Linked DNA regions of Homo sapiens. The protein of the gene in region 1 purifies or fractionates together with the protein of each later gene. This does not show direct contact. Each region holds a gene or a part of one and is shown in the gene's direction. Other genes may lie near its edges.

The links.
Region 2: the proteins of TMPRSS13 (region 1) and LIMD1 purify together in Homo sapiens (co-immunoprecipitation; 2 studies listed by BioGRID and IntAct, with this or other methods). This does not show direct contact.

The regions. Positions count from the first base shown.
Region 1 is NC_000011.10:117,901,797-117,905,709, reverse strand, and holds part of TMPRSS13 (transmembrane protease serine 13), read left to right. Parts: coding exon 1-72; intron 73-1,608; coding exon 1,609-1,751; intron 1,752-1,902; coding exon 1,903-2,055; intron 2,056-2,258; coding exon of another isoform or gene 2,259-2,273; exon of another isoform or gene 2,274-2,668; intron 2,669-3,444; coding exon 3,445-3,471; 3' UTR 3,472-3,913. UniProt on the Homo sapiens protein: Serine protease. Cleaves the proform of PRSS8/prostasin to form the active protein. Cleaves the proform of HGF to form the active protein which promotes MAPK signaling.
Region 2 is NC_000003.12:45,674,438-45,678,350, forward strand, and holds part of LIMD1 (LIM domain-containing protein 1), read left to right. Parts: intron 1-2,484; coding exon 2,485-2,622; 3' UTR 2,623-3,913. UniProt on the Homo sapiens protein: Adapter or scaffold protein which participates in the assembly of numerous protein complexes and is involved in several cellular processes such as cell fate determination, cytoskeletal organization, repression of gene transcription, cell-cell adhesion, cell differentiation, proliferation and migration.

The DNA.
Region 1 (3,913 bases):
TGCATGGACAGACCTTTAGCCTCAATGAGACCTGCTGGATCACAGGCTTTGGCAAGACCAGGGAGACAGATGGTAAGAGGCAAAGATGCTTGGTTGTGTGTATGTATTCATGTGCATGTGTGTGTATACATGTGCGTGTGTAAGCAATGTGTCTGGGTATACAGATGAAGGCCTATGTCGATGAGCGTTTGGGTATACGGATTCATGGGCCTGGGTGTGATTATGTGTGTATAGACACCTGAGTATATGCCGGTGCAGTCACTGTGACAATGCCCTCCAATCAAGACCACCTGGAAAACTGCTGTGGTTGAACTAGTTGAGTTCATTGCTCATTGCAATGAGAGAGAGAACACACCATGAAGAACCATGGAGCATCTCAGCAAGAGGGTGTCAGAGAGGGAATGCTCGTAGGATTTAGGTGGCTTGGGGAGGGTTCAAAGACGCAGGACTTTTCTCTAAATTGTGGTGTCAGGAAGCAGGGGTTATGATTGGGAACCTTAATAATCTTATCTAGAGGCCGGGCACCGTAGCTTACACCTGTAGTCCCAGCACTTTGGGAGGCCAAGGTGGGAGAATCTCTTGAGCCCAGGAGTTCAAGACCAGCCTGGGCATCATGGCAAAACCCCATCTCTACAAAAAATAGAAAAATTAGCTGGGCATGGTGATGTGTGCCTGTAGTCCCAGCTATGAGAGGGGCTGAGGCAGGAGGATCACTTGATCCCAGGGAGGTTGAGGCTACAGTGAGCCATGATCATGCCACTGCACTCTAGCCTGGGTGACAGAGTGAAACCCGTCTCAATTAAGAATATATATATATATATATATATATATATATATATATATATATAATCTTATCTAGGAGCTCTAAGTGGTAAGGAAGCAGCAGTCACTCATATTGGCCAGGAGAGGGGGATGTCTGGTACTGTTGTGGTTTGCACAGTGACCTTGTTTTTGTCTGGCCTTAAACAAGATGATGAAGTGGTCTTGTTTTCATGTCATCCCAATCACAGAGTGCCTTGTCCTGTGAGATTGCTTACTTTGAGCAGGATGACCCCATGGTTAGACTCAGGCCACTTCCATGCATCAGGACCGCTTTTCCCTCCCTCCGTGAGGCAGAGCAATGACTGATGTGGGTGCAGCCTACTTCTCCTCTTGTCTCCATACCTGACTAGCTGTGTGACTGTGGGCAGGTCACTTCTCCAGCACCAGGCCTCCCCACCGGTAAATGGATTAATGCCACCTGCTCTCTTTAGGGCACATAGCTTCCAAAAACAAACAAAGCCATGTATCTGAGGGTGCTTTGAACGTAGGCAAGTGCTGTGCAACATGTCGGGTAGCCTGATAGGCTTGTGAGTGTGTCTGTGTGCATGGATGTCTCTGTCTCACGTGCAGTGAGCTGTGTCTTGTGTGAGGGCGTGTGTGCCCATATGTCCTGGGTGTCCAACCACAGAGGGCCTCCCTTGGGTGGGAGCCAGGCACGGGCATGGCACCCTCCATTCCCAGGAGGCTGTGATTCTGGGTCTTGGGGTGGCAGCTGGACGGCCAGGAAGCTATCTAGAATCTCACTGGCTTCCCATCCTCTGTCTCCTCCACCCCACTTCACTGAAGACAAGACATCCCCCTTCCTCCGGGAGGTGCAGGTCAATCTCATCGACTTCAAGAAATGCAATGACTACTTGGTCTATGACAGTTACCTTACCCCAAGGATGATGTGTGCTGGGGACCTTCGTGGGGGCAGAGACTCCTGCCAGGTGAGGGTACCTGTGGGTGGGGCTCAGGTCCCAGCACCCTGGGGATGGGGGAGGCAGGGGTGTTGGGGCTGATGTGGGAATTGGGACCCCACCCTTTCCCGCTCATGGACCACCTGTCCCATCCTGCGAATGTGCCCCCTCTCCCCTGCAGGGAGACAGCGGGGGGCCTCTTGTCTGTGAGCAGAACAACCGCTGGTACCTGGCAGGTGTCACCAGCTGGGGCACAGGCTGTGGCCAGAGAAACAAACCTGGTGTGTACACCAAAGTGACAGAAGTTCTTCCCTGGATTTACAGCAAGATGGAGGTAAGATCCCTGCAGCAGGACACTGCACCCAGCAGGCTGGGAACTTCCTCAGGTGGGGACCCTGGAGGAGCACCCAGGTTGTAGGCAGAGGTCCCCTCAGCGTCCCCATATTCGGGGGGTGTTCTGGACAGGGTCAAATGTGATGCCTGGGGTCAATCCCAGCTGTCTGTGTTTCTTTCCCTGCTTTTCTTCCCTCAGAACAGAGCTCAGCGGGTTGAAAAAGGGTGGACCTACAGGCCAGGCAGGCAGTTGCTGGGCAGATGTTCTCCCAGAAGTATTTTTTTGTGTAAGGTTGCAATGGACTTTGAAAACGTTTCAGTTTCTGCAGAGGATTTTGTGATAGTTTTTGTTATCAAGCATTTATGCATGGGAATCCGCTCTTCATGGCCTTTCCCAGCTCTGTTTGTTTTAGTCTTTTTGATTTTCTTTTTGTTGTTGTTGTTGTCTTTTTTTAAAAACACAAGTGACTCCATTTTAACTCTGACAACTTTCACAGCTGTCACCAGAATGCTCCCTGAGAACTACCATTCTTTCCCTTTCCCACTTAAAATATTTCATCAGAACCTCACTACTATCATAAAAGAGTATAAAGTAATAAAATAATAAAAAGTTATTTTATGTTTTTTGACTTGCTTTAACCTATATCCAACCTCAGAAGTCATTGCTCAGGTCAAACTGAACCACAGACCCTTCAGTGTGTGCCTTACCTTGCCCTTGGCCTTTGGAATACTTGATCCACCCTAGAGAGTCCCCTCTCCCACTTCCACCCTCTCATCTTCCATTTTTCTTACTGAAGAACTCTGACTAATCTATCAAAATCAGCCATTTACAATGCCTGGAATATCCTCGGTATTTACTATTTATTGTTATAAATTAAGGATGAATGAATAAACAAATAAATGAAAAGAATAAAAGGTGGGCCTCACCTCGGTGCCAGCCCCAGTGCCACTCTCCTCTCCCAGGGATGACCGAGATGTGAGTTCACACAGGCCGCTGGCAGTGGAGTGATGGGAGGCCTCCCTCCACGGCAGGAATTTCGGTGTCAGGAAACAGGGATCTGCCTGCAACTCTGCTGACCTAGTTGAGACCCTGCCTTCTCTGGGCCTTCAGCCTTTAGCTGTAAAGCAGGGGGTGCTCTGCCAGCCCTCCCCTTCTCTGCCTGGGGAACAGGGGAGGGCTCAGATAGGGGGAGCAGAAAAGGCTCCAGAAATCTAGTGCAGAGAGGCCCTCCAATCCTGCATCCATCCTTTCCCTTTGCTCTCCCTCCTTGGAGAGGCAGTGCTAGGTGACAGCGAGGCTAAATTATAGGTTCTGAACCCCAACCTTGGGCTTCTGTGCTCCTCGCCCACCTGGCCCACCCTCACCCTCTTCTCCCATTCTCTTCCTCAGAGCGAGGTGCGATTCAGAAAATCCTAACCAGCTGGCCTGCTGCTCTGCACAGCACCGGCTGCTGTGAAGACTCTGGCCATGGTGACTGGCCATGTGTGGCATCATCTGGGCTAATGGCCACCGGGCACCATCGGACTCCCACCTCCACTGTCTGCTGCCTCTGTGTGTGTGTGTGTGTGTGTGTGTGTGTGTGCATATGTGTGCATTGCCACTCTCCCAAGTTTTTCAGAAACCAGCAGAGCTGTCAACTCTTCTCAAAATCCCAGGCTGGAAATTACCTGGAGACAAGAGTTGAGTACCGTGGATGTTCCTACAGGAGTGTCCATAGATGGATGGAGGAGGTGGAGCCCAGAGCCCAAGGAAGAGCTGGGAATTCTTGCTTCTCTGACCCTCACTTACAGACTAGCCCAGTGTGGGCAGATGCCAGCGGCCCAGGTGGCGCCATTGCTGTCCTGGGATGGATCGTGGG
Region 2 (3,913 bases), on another chromosome or scaffold:
AAGCCCATTGTAGACATCCAAGAGAAAAGCATCCTGCGTTGACTGGGGCAAGAGGCAGTCAACAAGATTCTGGCAAGGGTCAGCCCTCTAGAGCTTCTGTAGGAAATGGAATGAAGGCTGGTTCTTGGGGGAGGTAGGAGAAGATGGAAATGCTCAAGGTATAAAGGTCTTTCTTCTGCATATTCAGAACTATCAAGTCCTGCAACTGTTGGAGCTGCTCTCCCTGAAGCTGCAGAGCTAGGAGGGTCGTGGAGAGCATGGGTTTCAGGTCCTATCTGCGGGCCACATTGTCAGGCAGGTGTGCGATTTGGGGAAGGGACTCCCTCCCCTCCAGCTTGCAGGCTGTTCTATCTGCCTGAAGCTCCTTTCTCAGCTGAGCCCTGGAAATCATGAAGCCCCTCTTGGAAACAGGCATGTCAGCTGGTGGTGTGAAGGCGGGTGGGGTCCGCCTGCCCCTTCCTGCCCTTTGTCCCAACCCAAGATGAAGGAGCACTAGTACCTGATGACTGTCAGGAAAGCTAGAGGTTGCCCCTCACCAACCCTTGTGAAGGGTGACCATGGAATTTCAGCCACAATTAAGTGAATTCACCCATGGAAGGAGATTAGATTCATTTGGTGACCCTGTGGGTAGAGAATGGGGGTGTCCCTCATATAGACTTGTCCCACTGCCAACACTGAAGAAATGGGTGGGAATCATTGCTGCTGGGACCCCAGGTGCCCCAGGTCACTGCAGGAGAAAAAGGTGAGGACATTTGCTCAACAGGCCTCTCCACATTTTCTAGACCAGTGCTATCCAAAAGAAATATAAGGGGCCGGGCGCGATAGCTCACGCCTGTAATCTCAGCACTTTGGGAGGCCAAGGCCGGCAGATTACTTGAGGTCAGGAGTTCGAGACCAGCCTGGCCAACATGGCAAAAACCCATCTCTACTAAAAATACAAAGATTAGTGGGCGTGGTGGCACACGCCTGTAGTCCCAGCTACTCGGGAAGCTGAGACAGGAGAATTGCTTGAACCTGGGAAGTGGAGGTTGCAGTGACCTGAGATCATGCTACTGCACTCCAGCCTGGGCAACAGAGCAAGACTCCGTCTCAAAAAAAGAAAGAACTATGAGAGCCACAAATTAAAGTCATGTATCATTTTAAGTTTTCTGGTAGTCACAATTAAAACGTTAAAGAATTATGAGAGCCACAAATTAAAGTCATGTATCATTTTAAGTTTTCTGGTAGTCACAATTAAAACGTTAAAAGAAACCGGTGAGATTAATTATTTTATTCGGTTCAAAATATCCAGCCAGGCATGGGCCCATGCCTGTAATCTTAGCACTTTGGAAGGCCGAGGCAGGGGGATCACATGAGCCCAGGAGTTTGAGAACAGCATGGACAACACAGTGAGACCCTGTCTCTACTAAAAATACAAAAATTAGCCAGGCATGCTGTGCCTATAGTCTCAGCTACTTAGGAAGCTAGGATCGTGTCACTGCACTCTACTCTGGGTGACACAGCAAGACCCTGTCTTAAAAAAGTAAAAAATCCTGCTGGGCGTGGTGGCTCATGCCTGTAATCCCAGCACTTTGGGAGGGCAGATCACTTGAGGTCAGGAGTTCAAGACCAGCCTGGCCAACATGGTGAAACCCTGTCTCTACTAAAAATACAAAAATTAGCCAGATGTGTTGGCGCGTGCATAATCCCAGCTACTTGGGAGGCTGAGACAGGAGAATTCCTTGAACGGGGGAGGTGGATGTTGCAGTGAGCTGAGATCGCACCACTGCACTCCAGCCTAGAAAACAGAGGGAGACTGTCTCAAAAAAGAAAAAAAAATCCAAATGTTATCTTTTGAACATGTAATCAATATAAAAAAGTTACCCATGAGATTTTTTTTGTAACTCCACAATTTATTTTATTTCTTCTAAAAAAAAAAAAGGGATACGTGTGAAGATTTATTACATAGATATATGTTGTACGTGTGCCAGGGTGGTTTGCTGCACCTATTGTCCCATCCTCTAAGTTCCCTCCCCTCACCCCCACCTCCCAACAGGCCCTGGTGTGTGTTGTTCCCCTCCCTGTGTCCATGTGTTCTCATTGTTCAACTCCCACTTATGAGTGAGAACATGTGGTGTTTAGTTTTCTGTTCCTTTGTTAGTTTGCTGAGAATGATGGCTTCCAGCTTCATCCATGTCCCTGCAAAGGACATGATCTCATTCCTTTTTCCCATGAGATATTTTTACATCCTCTTTTTGTCCTAAGTCTTCGGAATCTGCATTTACACTGACAGCACATTTTAAGTGGTTCACAGCAAGTGCCTTGTGGCAGTGTCTCCTGTGTTGGACAGGCCTCCACGGGGCAGGAGCTGTGTTTCTGCACTGGCATTTCCTGCCTATACAGAAACACACAGCACCCTCTGCTGATTTTGGGGACTGTGGCCTTCAGGTCAGTCTTGCAGTCTGTTTTGTTTTGCTTCCCCTGGACATGTCTGCCTCCCCACAGGACTGTGGTCTGGAGCTCAATGATGAAGATGGCCACCGCTGTTATCCGCTGGAGGACCACCTGTTCTGTCACTCCTGCCACGTGAAGAGGCTGGAGAAGAGACCCTCATCTACAGCCCTTCACCAGCACCACTTCTAGCCAGAGCCACTTGCAGACATCACGGCAGGGGATGAGGAGCCGGGGTTGCTGCTGCTGCTTCCGGTGGCCCCTGGGGTGGAAGTGGGGTAGGGGAAGAGGAGGGGCAGGAGGGAGAGTTCCTGTGAGCATGTGGGGGGTGCCTTTCCTTTAACCAGGGAGGTGAACACTACCTGCCTCCTGCGTGTATTTTCCAAGTGCTTTTCTCTGTTGCCACATTTTCCTCAGGTTACTCAGGAAAATGCTCCAGCATGTGCGAGCACATGACCTGAGGTTGCATCATAGCACCAAAGGAATCCTCCTGTCCCCTCTGGGAACATTTCATGCTTCAGAGGGAGAGGTTTTTATTGAGCTTGTTTCACAATATCCCCTTGAAGGGACAGCTCAGCTGCCAATACATTCAACCCTTTCTCTTCCTTCAGGAAAATACCTATACCCAAATGTTCCCTCCCCCGACATATATCATGGCATGATTTAAGGCTTCTTTTCACCTGAGAGCTTCAGTTCTTCTGCAGAATGGCTGCAAATTTAATTGCATTAAGGCAAGAAGGAAGCTCTAATGTGTGCTTTGTATCCTAAGATAAATTTGCTTAGAAAACCAGAGTCAAGATTTGAAATAGGTGAGGCAGGGTTTCCTCCTTAGACACTGACAGCATTCTCTGTACCCCTTCAAATCCTTACTCTCCTAAAGGCAGCTGAGTCCGCGACAGAAATTTGCCCTATGTGAGTAAAACATACTTTGGGAGAAGAACTTGGTGCAGGCACCAGGATTTTTTTTTTTGCCCACGTGTTTGCGCTGTTTTTCTCTGGAGTTCTCAAGAGTTGGTGACTTGGAAGGCCGCTTCTGCAAGGCAAGTCTCAGGAACCCATGCAGGTACATCGCTTGCACCTGTTTTTAGCTTATTTAATGACGGGCTTTTGGGAAGAGCTGCCCGCATACTGAGAGACAGCTTCTTATAAACAAGGAGAGTTTTTGTGTGTGCGAGATCTCTAAGCCAGCGTGGGAGGGAGCGCCTCAGGATAAGTTATTATATTCATTTCGTTGGTTTCTCTCCTGCCCAATTCTTGGCACAGGCATTATGTTTGAAGAAACCAGGATAAGGTACACTGCTTTTGTCTGTTTAATTTTTTTAGTTGTTTCCCTTCACTTTCAGTCTTCCACACACAAAAAATACCTCACAGAGCTTCACCAAATCACAGATTCAGGAGGAATTTGGCTTTCACACTGGACTCAGATACCTTCTTCAGTGTGTTGGAAATCACTGGCTTCACACAGGCCCAACTCCAGCTGGTC